2 separate regions of the Homo sapiens genome follow, and region 1 is linked to region 2. The links come from fine-mapping of genetic effects on gene expression. Tissue or cell type: whole blood. Region 2 holds a variant in brackets; the other region holds the start of a gene. All regions are shown on one strand. Distances are between the middles of the regions.

Region 1 (8,108 bases), 39 kb after region 2:
TGCCCAACTGAATTTCTTATAATCAATTTATAAAATTGAATTTTATAAAGCAGGACCTTCCTGTCAAGTAATAAGTAAAAATGAAAAAAACATGAACTTATCTCATTCCCACACATCAATTTTTCCTTGGATTTTCAATGTGTTAGTTTCACAAAGCACAAGATATAAAATATTCCTCTGATAATGTTATTAGGTTGTTAGTACCTGAAGGCTGGAACTTGTATTTTATTTGTCCCTAAACCCTTTACAGGTTAATAAGTCTTACACCTAAAAGGCACTCCATATAAACTGACTCAACAATTGAATATCAAAGGCAGCAATATGTATAATACATACCCAAGAAGAGGCAGAACAAACAGAGCAGAGCAGTAAACTGTGAACAAGCGAGAAAGCCACATTGCCGTGTCCAGTTTATTGGTCATCATGAATTGCTAAATTTAAAAAGAAAAATACTGTAAGCTATGCCTGCAAATCATGTTTTTAAGCATCAAGACTGTGTGGTTTTTATGTCTACTCAAAATATTTTAATCTTCCTCCATTTGTTTTTTTAGATCATTAGGTGAAAACTCTAAGGCAATTACATGTTTCATGTATATGCTTAATGAGAAGTCCAAACACCTTATAGTTTTCATGTGGAAAGCACAAGAAGTACTTAAACAGAAATAAATAGAAAAATATCAGCTGACATTTTAAAAAAATGCAAAGACTAATTAATTAGAAAAAATAATCTTAACAGAAATTCAACTACAATTGTCTGTGTTCCTTTAACACTTGCAATATTGGCTTCATCTATTTTAAAAGAACATTAAACAAAAACTAATTGCTCTCAAGAGATCCATATGCCTATTCTTAGCAAAAAATCTCAAATCCGAATAGGTAGGTCTCAGAGCTGAGTAAAACATCACATAAAGCCAGTTGGGATTAAAGAAACCTTTTGAAGAAGAAATATAAAACCATGATAGTAGTAACAACTAAACTCATTCGCCTTGTAATCTGCCTACATGCACAAGGGCCTGGCATACTCTAGGTGCTCAAAATGTGGCTGACAGGTATTAAATGGCCACCTGCCTCTCTGATTACACCACTCTCTTTATCACCTCCATGTTCCCCCACAAGTCTTACCCTAGTTTCGGTGGTCCTAGATTAAACTTTCCTATACCATTTTCTTCCCCCATTTTTTTCCCATTCTATCTTTCCTTTGCTGCTTTCCCCCCAATACTTATGTCTATTACCACTAAAGCAGAATCTTAAAATGTGTTTTCTCATTAAAATGTATCTTATATTCAAAAGTGGCTTTTACATTTTTTGTCTAGGATCTTCGTAATTTTAACATTGAGATCCATATACATGGATATATAAACAAAAGTTTCACAAATATTTACCCTACTGTATATAATGGATTTTGACATTTTCTATTTAATTTTTTAAAAATAGCTGGTGTTTACACTAAACTGACTTCTCAACTCACTAATGGGTCTACCTGAAGTCTAAAAACACTGCTCTATGTAATTTAATTTCATTATCTTTTGAAAAAAAAATATAAAAAATTTGAGGGAAAAATCCAAGTACATTGTAAAATTCCAGGCTGTTTTATTTTATGTCTTTTTAACCCACATGTAGGTAATTTCAGAAATATGAAATACAACTTTGATTTATCATTAAATCCAGACTTACCGTACTGTGACTCCAATAAACTGAAATGATTAGCAGTAATCAAGTGAAGGATGAATCCAGCTTACTGTGCTCAGTTTCTCAACAAATATTATGACTGGGCACCACAGCTTGAAAGTTAGTTTTAGAACATTCTCCTTAAAATCTATTTGTTCAGGTTGTTTATTCTGCAATAAATCATTGAGCTATGCGTTTCATTTTGTACACACTTATGTATATTATACAATTTTAAAAGTTTAAGAAAGTCTATTGGTATACATTTTTTAAGAGTAAACTGTCCAACCATCAGGCAAAAAAAAAAAAAAATCACTAGATCTTTGGGTGAAAAATTGTTGAGGAGCAATATTCACACAGTGTCACAGTATCATGCCAAAGAACACTTTTTAATTAGAAAGGAAAAAAGGTATCTTTACAATGGAGAAACTGGTGGACACCACCTTAATCAAATAATCAAACAAATTCTGCAATGATGGGATAAATCAATGTAAAATGCTTCCTGATATATAATATAGATATACATATTAGATGTACCTATATATGCTGCAAAACATGTCTGGACTCTTGAAAACTATCAGTATCTTAAAAGACAAAAAAGGGGAGGAGAGGGCAGAACTGTTCTAGATTAAAAGGCAGTAAACAAGATATGGCCAGTAAATTGAATGCATGCTTTCTGAGATAGGGTCTCGCTCTGTCACCCCAGGCTGGAGCGCAAAAGCACAACCCACCTCAGCCTCCTGAGTAGCTGGGACTATGCTGGGACTATAGGAGCGCACCTCCACGACCGGCTAATTTATGTTTGTTTGTTTGTTTGTTTGTTTTGAGAGAAGGTTTTGCTCTATCACCCAGGCTGGAGTGCAGTGGCGCGATCTTGGCTCACGGCAGCTTCAACTTCTCGGGCGCAAGCGATCCACCCGCCTTGGCCTCCCAAAGTGCTGAGATTACAGGCGTGAGCCACCACGCCCCGCCTAATTTCTTTGATTTCTAGTAGAGATGAGGTCTCGCTATGTTTCCAAGGCTGGTCTCTAACTCCTGAACTCAAGCGATCCTCCCGCCTTGGACTCCCAAAGTTCTGGGCTTACAGGAGTGAGCCACTGCGCCAGCCCATCGATGCATGCTTTTTGACAGAATCCCAGATGAAGAGAAAGCAGCTTTAAAGGACAATTATGGAAATTTGCACATGGATTTTATATTAGGTAATATTTCCCAAATGTGGTAACTGCATTGTGGTCACACAGAATAATACTTAACTACTTATGGATTAAAAAGTAGAGGACAGCAATGCTCCGGGCACAAATAACTTGTTAGCTCCAGATCAGCATCTTAAAAAAATTACAAAAGCATAATGATATTTCTCTTCATAAAGAACAAAGTGAAGAAGAAAAAGACCACCGCTCTCCTCCCTTTGCATAATTTCTATATACGATTGTATAAACTAGGCAGAAACGTTCTTTGCCGGCACTCGTGTGCTCCACGTGGTGTGTGTCATGGATCATGTGTGTCATGGCACAATCTCATGCGGCATCTTTAACCTTGGGGCCTACGGTAAACAAAAGACCGAGGTGGGAGAAGAGGAAAGAAGGCCCAATTTCCATGGCATACAGGTGGGGGCCACCAGCTCCAGGTCAGCCTATTGTCGCTTCAGAAACAAACTTGTAGTTCCCTCCATATCTTCGCTCAGGACCTCCCCTCTCCCCGCTCCAACTTCCCCACCCCAACTCATTAATCCCATTCCTGAATGCACTGAGCTTCTGGAACGCCTCGGGACTCGCAACGCTTCCTGCTTCTTCCTAACTCTTGCAAATCAAGCCAGACTACCCTGCCCTCGCACTTACCACAGCGCCCGCCCCTTGGGGGCCGTTCGGGGTCGTATCTGCCATGGGGGCTCACACTAGCGTCTGCGACGCCGCAACCGCGAAGAGAGAAGAAAGGGGAGAGAAAACGTCAGCGCTGGGGCCAGGACCCGGGTACCGGCTTCCCTGCCTCGCGCCACACACAGGCCGGATGCACCCTGCCGGAACTCTGAGCCTCCACCAGGGAAGGGTCTCGCTCGCCTGGTGCAGCCGACTGGATCCAGGGCACCCGCAGCAGCCGGGAGGTACCTGTCCCGCACCGCCGAGATCAAAGCGGTGTTTCCAGAAAGACGGGAGCGAAGGTGGAGCTTCGGGGTGAAGCCCTAAAGAGCCAACCTACGCCGCCGGCTCCAGGTTATTGCCGAACCCGGAAGTGCTCCTTTCATTTCCGTGGGGAAGAGGCGGTGACAAAGAGGGGGAAACGGGAGCGGTGCCCAGAGGCATGACGGGAAGTGTGGTTTTTTTCTCCTAATTTGAGCCCCACCTGTCCTTCCGCCGATTGGCCCAGTGAGCTAAGAAATCAGGATGGGGGAGCAACTTTTGCATTAAATACAGCTCACAAATGATCTTTCCTGCCCATTCTCAAACCATGAAATTTCCGCACTTCCTGATATAGAGGCCTCAGAAACATCTTTGATTCCTTTCTCCAGGGGCTTACTAAGCCCGTTGGTTCTACGTCTATTATTAATTCTTTCAATAAGTATTTATGAGGCCTGCTATGTGACAGGCTCCATACTTGGCACGGCGGATAAAAAGAGGAATATGACACAGATTGCAAAAGAGAAACAAGTAAACGGAAATCAGAGCATAGTGATTGTGTAATATGTGTAGAGGCTGATTTAATCACAGGGAGCACAGAGGACGGTACCTAAATCAGAAGGGATCTGGGGAGGTTTCCTGGAAAAGGTAAGTCCGGGCCTTGATCTTGAACGACAAAAAGTTGGCTGAAAGTGTTACTGGTGTAGGGTGTCCAAGTTCTTGGCGTTTTGAACATAGAATTGGACAAAACGCACAAAGCAAGGAAAGAATAAAGCAACAAAAGCAGAGATTTGTTGAAAATGAAAGTACACTCCAGAGTGTGGGAGAGTGAGACAGCAGCTCAAGGGCCCTGGATACAGAGTCTTCTCGGGTCCAAATACCCCCTAGAGGTTTCCCATTGGCCACTTGGAGTTCACTTCATGTAAATGAAGTGGTGGCCCGCAATCAGTCTGAATGGTTGCGCAAAGCAACCAATCAGAGGCTGAAGAAGTTACAAAGTTACACTTCTATGCAAACGTCTGATTGGTTACAAAAAGCAACCAATCAGAGGTACTTTCAATTTCCCAAATCTGCGCAGAACAGGTTGGGGCTTGCAAAGGGAGTAGTATCTGGCCCTTTATTCACTTAAGCGTGGACAGTAAGGATTTTCCTTCAATTTAGTTCTAGGAAGTCAGCGAGAAAGGGCATTAGGTTCCCTACCGCCATACCATATTCTTCTGCCTTAAAACGGGAAGGGAACTCCATACAGAGTAACAGAAAGTGCAAGAAGTAACAGGACAGCGAGAGGACTAGTTGAGTGTGACCAGAATGATGGTACCAGTCAGGGGATTGTGAAAGATTTGCGCTAGAGAGGCAGGCAGGGGTGTACTGAGGAAAGGATCTGAACTTGACCCTGAAATCCAGAGAACCATGGAACAATTTTAATCAGAAGTGTGACATCCTGAGATTTAGAAAGTTCTCTCTGGCAACAGGGTGGAGGATGAACAGAGGGGCAAATTAAAAGTCAGGAAATTCGTTGTGAAGCCATTTATATATATATAAACTAAAAATAAAATCCTAAGTAAGGGGTCTGTCGACTGACTGGATAGATCCCTTTCTTGGCCAAGGGGACCCCAGCCATGATGGGACAGGAGATCAGACATGCCTCATTATACCCCCTCCCTTTTGTAGTTTAGACACAACTGACTAGCAACTACTTAGGCGTGGAAAGTTAGGGTTTTCCTTTCAAATTAGTTCTAGGAAGTCAGCCTATGTTTAACATGTTAATGTTACAATAAAGATCATAACATTGACAGAACAAACTCTTTGTGGGAATAGGATACCAAATTATAAACAGGACCTAAGGCCATGCCAGGCAAGGGTTAAGTCATGCACCCCCTACACTTAAAAAATAAACTATGTTCTACCACAAGAGGTTTTTTTTTTCCCTCTGGCAGCTAAACAACCACTGGCCTAGAGAGAAGCAATATTAAAACAATTACAACTAATCCAGCTCACAGACACTAACTGAACCCCTGCTATACCAACCATAGCTACAGCTTTGATTGCACAAGAGACTGATTTCAGTAACGTTCTCCAGATAAGACCACTGACCATAGGCTGGTTCTGGCCACTTTACAGAGGCCATGCACTTGTGTGCCTTCGTCTCTGCTTCACCTTTTGAGGTACAGAGCCTAACTGTAATACATTAAATATTAAGTCTCCACCCCAAGGTGAACACAGGTTGTATGTAACATGCATGTTGTTCCATACGCATGTATCAGGACTACTTTTATGAATATTCATAGCTCTTCCTGTAACCTGTTGAATATGTATGTTTAGCCAACCTATTCAGCATAAAGCTCCTACCCCAGCTCCTCTTCCTTTAAAGTGCCTGTCTCTGGTCCTTGCTGGAGGCTGTGCTTCCCAGCCCATGAGAGGGCCACCTTGCAGGCTGTATCTCCTTATAAGAAATAAAGTCTCCTTTTCTGAACATATAGATCTTGTGAGTTTTAAGTTAACACATACGTGTAGGAAAGAAGTGATGAGATTCTGGATTGAGGCAGTGTTGTTGGGGAAAAGAAGAGGAAAGATGACTTGGAGGTGGCTTCTAAGATGTGGTGACTAACTAGGTATGGGTGTGTAGGAAGGGGAATGCCATCTGCTGAGACCTGAAGAAGTGTAGAAAAAAATGCATGAGAAGAGCAGTAGATTGAGAATCAAATATGAAGGGGCTAGGGAGAGGGAGTGGACTGGGGACCCACGGGAAAGCTGGCACCCTGTCGGAAAACCATGAGACTGTAATGCTCTTCCTCTGTCAGATGTGTGGTTATCCTCTAGTATCCATGGGCAGACCAGGTGCTAGTCAGATGCAGCCGAGAAATCAAATGGGGTTCTCTTGAAACAGTACAAACCTCTTTTTCTAAGGCCACTGCCCAAGTTCAGGTCCTTCAGATCTCTAGCCTGGATTACTCATCCTCCTAGCTGAGCTAAAATGCCACCTCCTCTGCACTCTTCCCATATCATTTACTCCATATTTTTATAGCAGTTACATTTTTTAACATTTCTTAGAATTATATGTCTCCTTGCCAGTGTGTGTGTTTGTGTGTGTCTATGGCAGTCAACTCAGGCTGTCATAACGAAATACCATAAAGTGGGTAGCATAAGCAACACAAATTTGTTTTCTCACAGTTCTGGAGACTGAGAGGTTTAAGATTAAGGTGCCAACAAGGTAAGTTTCATTTTAGCCGCTGGCAGCTGCCATTTTCTGTGTGCTCAATTTAGGAGGAGGTAAATGATCTCTGTCTTCCTCTCTTCCCCTTCTTATAAGGTCGCCAGTTCTATCGGATTAGGACCCCATCCTTATAACTTAAGTTAGCCTTAATTACTTCCTAAAGATCCTGTTTCCAAATATATACAGTCACATGAGGGTTAGGGTCTTGACATATGAATTTTGAGGGACACAATTCAGTCCATAGCTATATATATTTTATATATATGTATGTAAGTACATATTTTTTTACTGATTTAAAGGATCATCTTATTACAAAAATATTAAAATACAAAATGTTCTCTATTGTAAATTCCATATAGCTAATTAATCTCACAGATACTTCTTTTGATTTTGCTGAACTCTTATATCCATAGCAATATACAGTTGCCATTGATGAATGAGTGTAATTTCATGAATGTTTCTTGATATTTTTGTTAAAGAGTAAAATGAAAGTGAAACAACTAAGACACATATCTTCAACTTTGCATATTAAAATAATTGCAAGTTTACTCTCCTAAGTAGTTGTATTTAGTGTATGAGAATAGCCCTAATCCCTGCCAAAATTTGCTATTTTTAGTTCTTACCAAGATTAGGTATATAAAATGGTATGTCATTTTTTCAATTTGCATTTTCGTGAGTAGTAGTGAGGCTTAGCATCTTTTCACAACTTTATTGGCCATTCAGATTTTCTCTCCTGTTGGCTTTTTTTTTTGAGACACAGTCTTGAGCTGTCGCCCAGGCAGGAGTGCAATGGCGCAGTCTCGACTTGCTGCAGCCTCCACCTCCCAGGTTCAAATGATTATCCTGCCTCAGCCTCCTAAGTAGCTGGGATTACAGGTGCCTGCTACCACGCTGGGCTAATTTTTTGTATTTTTAGTAGAGATGGGGTTTCAGTATGTTGGCCAGGCTGGTCTCAAACTCCAGACCTCGTGATCTACCCGCCTCAGCCTCCCAAAGTGCTGGGATTATAGGCGTGAGCCGCTGTGCCTGGCCTCTGTTGCCTCTTTTCTATTGAGCTGTTTGTCTTTTGTTGTGGTCCATTATTATTGATTTGTCGGCATTTTAAAAAGTTTTGT
Region 2 (8,108 bases):
TCTGACATGAATCTAAACGTATTATATTTCTGTGACATTTTACACTAATTATTGCTCTTTCTAAAAATACCCAGGCCTTTACTTTTTAGCCAATTTTTTTGTTGTTGTTGTTTCTAAAACAGAAGGTGAACTGGGTCAATTCAGGTATTAATTTTAGCTATGCCATATCAACTTCTGGACACAAGCAGCTAAAGAGAAACTGGAATGGGAAGAAAATTCCATTCCTGCCCTGTTTCCTGGTTAGGAAGGAGCAGACTTTAGAGAAGGAAGGCCAAGCATGGTTTGTAACAGGCTGAAAACATGCCCTTGAAAGCTGAGGCCTCAAGTGTGCCTGTGAAATGGTAAACAAACCCGGTAATGGTAAATGAGCCATGGCTTTGGCTTATTTGCAATAAGGAACAAATCAATTGAAGTATTTCATATTCCTCTCAGAAGAGAACCATAAAGAGCCATGAGACTTCCCAAACAATTGGGATAAATGGGAGAATTTAATAAATAGAATGAAACAAACAGAAGGAAATAAAAAAATGAGCAAAATGCTTTTTAAAAAGCTAAAAACATTTTAGAAAGTGTGAGAATAATAATTACTAAACCCACATGTCTGTAACAAATGAATTGCAATGAAAGGCCAGAGTACAAATAAGAATTATTCATTAACTTGCACTGTAGCATCTGCTACTTGTTATTTCAGCAAATGAATTGTGCAGTAATGACAGTGAATTCTAAACTTGAATATCTAATAATTGAACAGTCATTCCTGCTTCCTACTTGCAAGAAAAAAAAAAGGAACTAAAAGAAAGGAAGAAAAAATAAAAGTTACTTAAAAATATGTTAAACTGATGCCAAGACTGGTCATATAATTCAATATACCATTCGAACTGGGCAGCAGGCTTCCCACTGACCCAGCTGCTGAGTACAGAGGTTTTTATGGTAACAGGTGAGCTCTAACATGGCAGCCCAATATTTTACACCCTTGCTGCATTTTCTGATAATGGACTCACACTCTTATTCCTTTTCCATAAACAAAGCATTCTGTTGCCTGTTCATCCCACTCTCCACCCAAGGAGTACCACATCACAATGGAAACCATTCTCCAGGCAATGGGTTTCAGCTATTAATCACTGGGATGTCAAATGAGAAAATATGTGATTGGTTAAGCTTAGAACAAGGTCAGGAATGAAGAATAATAAATTTGAAAGCAGACATTGTTTAACAATTGCTATGGGAAATGGATTCTGGATTACACATACAATTTTAAAATAACTTCAGGTCTCCTGAGCTAGATTTTTTTTTTAATGATAGCACTCAGTGCCAGTGAAGAGCATTTATATTTTGTGACTGCACAGCATATTTTGAACATACTTCCAATATCTGGGGAATGTCCTACCTGTGAGCCTACCTCCCCAAAGTAGAAGGCTGGAACTTGCTCTCCTGGGCTCCTTTGGAGCAAGGGCCCACGCATGTGACAAACCACCAACCAACCATCAGAACATCTATGAGAAGCTACAATTTGAAATAAAGTAATGGGAAAAGTAAGGCATCTCAAGGAACATATTCTGCAAGGGAAGAGGCGTAAGGCAAAATACAACCAGTGGAGGTGGTAAGGACACACGTCCAGGGGAGTGTCCCAGTAATAGTGGTGACTGTTCCCAATGGAAACTGCATTATTCCTGGTTAGACAGCTTCCAAGCCTGATTCCCTACTCCATCCAGACTTTTAAATACCTAATATCCTTTTAAAAAAAATTCTTCTTCTGTTTAACTAGAGTAAGTTTTGTTTCAAGCATTCAATGTGTATTTATTGAGTGCCTACTACGTTCCAGGAACTGGTTTTTAACAATGAATAAAACAAAAAATGATTCTTGTCCTAATGAAGCTTACACTCTGGTGGGGACACAAATGAGAAACAAAATAAACAAATGTGTGATAATGCTATGTGCATTATGATAGGCACTATATGGCAATAAGTACTATAGAGAAAAATCAAGCAGGAAAAAAGAAATGTCAGTGTGGAAGTGGGTGTAGTATATTTAAATAGGGAGGTGAGGAGAGGACTCACCAAGGTGACATTTGAATAAAGATCTGAAGGAGGTAAAGGAATGAGTCAAATTGATATCTAAGACAACATTCTAGGTAGGAGGAGTACTTTTGTACTTGGCAAATTCAAAAAAGAGCAAAAAGCCAGTGTGGCTGGAACACAGCAAATGAGGGAATAAGTAGTAGGAGATGAGGAACAAGAAGTGTGATCAAGAGGCGTTTGTTGGTCACTGCAAGAGCTCTGAGAGTAGAAGCCACAGAAGGGTTTTGTGCAAAGGAGACATATTCTGATGTATGATTTAACAGAATTATTGTGGTTGCTGTATCAAGACAAATTGGGGAGAGGCAGGCAAAAGCAGAAGAGAAAAGTGAGGAAGCTACTGGAATAATCGAGGTAAGACATGAAGGTTGTTTATTCACAGTGATAATTGAGCTGGGTGAAGAGAGAATCTGATTGTGGATATATGTTAGATTTGTTTGTTTGTTTGTTTGTTTTTTGTTTCTGTTTTTTTGAGATGGGGTCTCACCATGTTTCCCTACCTGGTCTTGAACTCCTGGGTTCAAGCAGTCCTCCTTCCTTAGCCTCCTAAGTAACTGGGATTACATGTGTGCAAACTGTGCCTGGGTATTTCTGAATATATTTTGAAGGTATAACTGACACAATTTGTTCATGGATTGTTTTGGGGACATTCTGATGACCTAATGCTTCTGACAACTAGAATTAGCATATATGATTTAATGTGGTTTCTAAGAATCAAAAGCCAGAAATATGTACTAAAACATTATTAGTGGTGCTATAAACCCCCAACATTGATATATTGATATAGAGCTTTAGAGTCAACACTATCTGATGCATGTAATAAAATATATCATCATTACCATGCCAAATTCATTTTTTAAAGTATTTATTTTCAGCACTATGTGCAAGACATAGTAATCTAGTAATATCGCCAAACATTTTAAATAGCACTAGAGTTTATAAAACACTTTAACATCCATCCTTGAACACAGCCAGATTCTGTAACTCACAAAGTGCTACATCACAACTATACTCTGAAGCAGGATTCCACCATCACCTAAGTTTCACTTTCTTAGTTATAAAATACTTTCTACATATGTTTCTTGAACACTAAGCCCATATGCTATGGACTGAGTAGGCCCCCACAAAATTCCTATGTTGAAGCCCTAACCTCTAGTATGTCTGTATTTGGAGAAAGGGCCTTTAGGAGGTAATTAAGGTTAAATGAAGTCAAAATGGCACTGTATTAGTCCATTTTCATGCTGCTGATAAAAGACGTACCCAAGACTGGGTAACTTATATAGGTAAAAGAGTTTAATGGACTTACAGTTCCATGTGGCTGGGGAGGCCTCACTATCATTGCAAAAGGCAAGGAGGAGCAAGTTCCATCTTACGTGGATGGCAGCAGGCAAAAAGAGAGCCTGTGCAGGGAAACTCCCGTTTTTTAAAACCATCAGATCTTATGAGACTTATTATCACAAGAACAGCACAGAAAAGACCCACCCCCATGATTCAAATATCTCCCACTGGGTTCCTCACACAACACATGGGAATTATGGGAGCTACAAGATGAGATTTGGGTGGGGACACAGAGCCAAACCATACCATTCCGCCTGGGCCCCTCCCAAATCTCATGTCTTCACACTTCAAAACCAATCATGCCTTTCCAGCAGTACCCCCAAAGTCTTAACTCATTACACCATTAACTCAAAAGTCCACAGTCCAACATCTCATCTGAGACAAGGAAAGTCCCTTCTGTCTATGAGCCTGTAAAATCAAAACCAAGTTAGTTACTTCCTAGATACAATGGGGGTACAGGCATTGGTAAATACAGCTGTTCCAAATGGGGAAATTAGCCAAAACAAAGGGGCTACAGGCCCCCCACACAAATCCAAAATCCAGCAGGGCACTCAAATCTTAAAGCTCCAAAATGATCTCCTTTGACTTCATGCCTTGCATCGGGTCACAATGATGCAAGAGGTGGGTTCCCATGGTCTTGGGCAGCTCTGCCCCTGTGGCTTTGCAGGTTACCGCCTCCCTCCTGGCTGCTTTCACGGGCTGGTTTTAAGTGTCTGCAGCTTTTCCAGGTGCAGGGTGCAAGCTGTCAGTGGACCTGCCATTCTGGGGTCTGGAGGATGGTGGCCCTCTTCTCACAGCTCCACTAGGCAGTGCCCCAGTAGGGACTCTGTGTGGGGGCTCCAACCCCATATTTCCCTTCCACACTGACCTAACAGAGGTTCTCTATGAGGGGTCCACCCCTGCAGCACACTTCTGCCTGGGCATCCAGGTGTTTCCATACATCTTCTGAAATCTAGGCAGAGGTTCCCAAACCCCCATTCCTGACTTCTGTGCACTCACAGGCTGAATACAACGTGGAAGCTGCCAAGGCTTTGGGCTTGCACCAACTGAAGCCAAGGTCCAAGATCTATGTTGGCCCCTTTCAGCCATGGCTGAGGCAGTTGGGAGGCAGGGCACCAAGTCCCCAGGCTACACACAGCACAAGGACCTTGGGCCTGGCCCACGAAACCACTTTTTCCTCCTAGGCCTGTGATGGGAGGGGCTACTGCAAAGGTCTCTGACATGCCCTGGAGACATTTTCCCCATTGTCTTGGTGATTAACATACGGTTCCTCATTACTTATGCAAATTTCTGCAGCC[A/G]ACTTGAATTTCTCCTCAGAAAATAAGATTTTCTTTTCTATTGCATTGTCAGGCTGCAAATTTTCCAAAGTTTTATGCTCTGTTTTCCTTTTGAAACAGAATGCCTTTCAACAGCACCCAAGTCACCTCTTGAATGCTTTGGTGCTTAGAAATTTCTTCCACAAGATACCCTAAATCATGTCTCTCAAGTTCAAAGTTCCACAAATCTCTAGGGCAGGGGCAAAATGCTGCCAGTCTCTTTGCTAAAACATAACAAGAATCACCTTTGCTCCAGTTCCCAACAAGCTCCTCATCTCCATCCGAGACCACCTCAGCCTGGATTTCATTGTCCATAGCATTATCAGCATTTTGGTCAAAGCCACTGAACAAGTCTCAAGGGAATTCCAAACTTTCCCACATTTTCCTGTCTTCTGAGCCCTCCAAACAGTTCCAGCCTCTGCCTGTTACCCAGTTCCAAAGTCTCTTCCACATTTTTGGGTATATTTTCAACAACACCCCACTCTACTGGTACCAATTTACTGTATTAGTCTGTTTTCATGCAGCTGATAAAGACATACCCAAGAGTGGATAATTTATACAGAAAAAAGGGTTTAATGGACTTACAGCTACACATGGCTGGGGAGGCTTCACTCTCATGGCAAAAAGCGAGGAGGAGCAAGTCATATCTTACATGGATGGCAGCAGGCAAAGAGAGAGCTTGTGCAGGGAAACTCATTCTTTAAAACCATCAGATCTAGTGAGACTTATTCACTATCATAAGACCAGCACAGGAAAGAGCCACCCCTATGATTCAAATGACTCCCACCATGTTCCTCCCATAACACGTGGGAATTATGGGAGATACAAGATGAGATTTGGGTGGGGACGCACACCCATATTAGGCACCCTAATCCAATAGGACTAGTGGCCTTTTAAGAGGAAGACAGAGAGATATCTATTTATCTCTGCATACACACACACTGAGGAAAGGCCATGTGAGTGCACGGTGAGATGGTAACTCCCAACAAACCAAGGGAAGAGGCCTCAGAATGAAACCTATCTTGCTGGCACCTTGAACTTAGACTTCCTAGGTTCCAGAACTCTGGGAAAATACATTTTGGTTGTTAAACCATCCAGTCTGTGGCATTTTGTTATGGCAGCCCATGATGACCAATACACCACATTACAGAAGGAAAAGGTGGTCTTGATGTTGGCCAATTACATATACACACAAAATTCCAAGAATGTTCATTCACAATTTCATTCTCAGGCCATATAATCCAAACTACACAAGGTCCACAAATCCACAAGCCAATGAGCCTAGAATCACTCTTTTGATCTCTTCAACTTATCCCTAAGTTCCATTCACAGACACAGGGTGTTTGTCCTAGACTCTGGGGGAGCACTGTGAAATGACACCATGGTTACCAGAGAATCTCCAACAATCCCCTTCATACCCTCAATATTTGTACCGTCCAGTATCTTAGCTACTAGCCGTATGTACCTATGGAATATGTACATAAATATTTGATATATAGCTAGTCTAATATGATATAAGAATACCATACCAAATTTCAAAGACTTAGTATGAAAAAATGTGAAATATGTTAACTTTTATGTTAATTATTGCTGAAATATATTGTTGATATATTGGGTTTAATAAAATATATTATAAAAATTAACTTCACCTTTTTACTGTTTTTAATGTGGCTAATAGAAAATTTAAAATTACATATATGGCTCACATTAGTACCTTGCATTATATTTCTATTGGACAGTGCTAATTCACACACACACACACACACACACACACACACACACACACACAGTCTCTTAGTTCTTTTGATATACAGTACTCACTCCTTCCTTGAAGTCCCTGCTCCAGCTCTTCTTGAGTCTTGTCTCCAAAGGATGTTGTCAGTATTTCTCTACTCAGACTGGTTCTGCTATTCATAGCAGTCAGGTTTCAGAACATGAGTGTGCATGAGGCAGAGGGGAAAAGTTGTCATGGGGGTCTGCCCCCCATGTAAATATCTGATGCAATTAGATATTTTTCCTCATTACACTGATGCTTTTTCTGCTTTACTATCTTAGGCAATATCAAAACCCATCCTTTATTTATTTATATTTTTTAAATTGAGACAAGGTCTCACTCTGTCACCCAAGCTGAGTGCAGTGGTGCAATCACAGCTCAGTGCAGCCTTGACCTCCCAGGCTCAAGCAACCTTCCCACTTCAGCCTCCCCCAGTAGCTGGGACTATAGGCACATGCCACCATGCCCAACTAATTATTTATTTATTTTTGTACAGAACAGGGTCTTGCTATGTTGCACAGGCAGGTCTCAAACTCCTGGACTCAAGTACTCCTCCCACCTCAGACTCCCAAAGTGCTGGGATTACAGTTGTGAGACAACTGGGATTACAGTTGTGATTACAGTTGTGTTCTGGCCAAAAACACACCCTTCTATTAAGATAGCCTTGAGAGATTCAACATTCTAGAAAATGGAAGAGAGTGGTAGGGGAGAGAACCTTCCACCACACAAAATTATTTTCATTCAATATTACTCTCCAAATTTTACAAGAGGAAACAGATGTTCAGAGTGGTTAAATTTGTTACCCAAGGTCACAGAGCTGTATGTAATTAATACTGAAGTCTGGTATCTGATCTTTATTCATTCCTGTTATCATTATATCACAATATCATGTGTCTCCAAAATTTAAATTTTGACAATTCAAAATTTTAGACTATCTGGGAGGGAACAAGACAGGGGGTGGTCATCATTACAAACATCAATTACCAGAAAGTATCTGAAGAATAGTTATTTTCTAATCCTTTGGAATATAAATATGTGGGAAATTATGTTAACTACTCAATTTATTCAATAAAGCAATTCACAGAATTGTTCTAATTATAGATTGTATTAGTCTGTTCTCATGTTGCTATATAAAGACATACCCAAGACTGGTAATTTATAAAGAAAAGACATTTAATTGACTCACAGTTCAGCATGGCTGGGGAAGTCTCAGGAAACTCACAATCATGTCAGAAGGGGAAGTAAATACACCCTTCTTCACATGGAGGCAGCAAGGAGAAGTGCAGAGTGAAGGGGAGGAAAGCCCCTTATAAAACCATCAGGTCTCATGAGAACTCACTATCATGAGAACAGCATGGAGGTCAATTACCTTCTACCAGATCCCTCCATGATACATGTGGATTATGGGTGCTACAATTCAAGATGAGATTTGGGTGGGGAAGCAACCAAACTATATCATTCCAACCGTGGCCCCTCCCAAATTTCATGTCCTCACATTTCAAAACACAATCATGCCTTCCCAACAGACCCCCAAAGCCTTAACTCACTCCAGCATGAATTCAAAAGACCAAGTCTTAAGTCTCATCTGAGACAAGGCAAGTCCC

The links. PIP is the estimated chance that this variant, and not a neighbour inherited with it, causes the effect.
Region 1: it holds the start of TMEM33, and the variant in region 2 is fine-mapped to the expression of TMEM33 in whole blood (INTERVAL, PIP 0.95).

Annotation. Positions count from the first base shown.
Region 1 is chr4:41,930,925-41,939,032 of GRCh38, reverse strand. TMEM33 (transmembrane protein 33) reads right to left here and starts at 3,604. Exons shown (of 7, transcript NM_018126.3): 1 at 3,504-3,604; 2 at 337-431. The coding sequence starts at 3,548. It overlaps LOC105374426 (a long non-coding RNA gene), which reads left to right and starts at 4,358. Exons shown (of 3, transcript NR_188374.1): 1 at 4,358-4,427. RefSeq lists enhancers at 3,215-3,284, 3,295-3,344, 3,585-3,764.
Region 2 is chr4:41,969,523-41,977,630 of GRCh38, reverse strand. No RefSeq gene overlaps it. Among named protein-coding and RNA genes, the nearest start is that of DCAF4L1, 8.2 kb to the left of the region's middle. The variant A/G (reference allele first, on the strand shown) is at 4,713.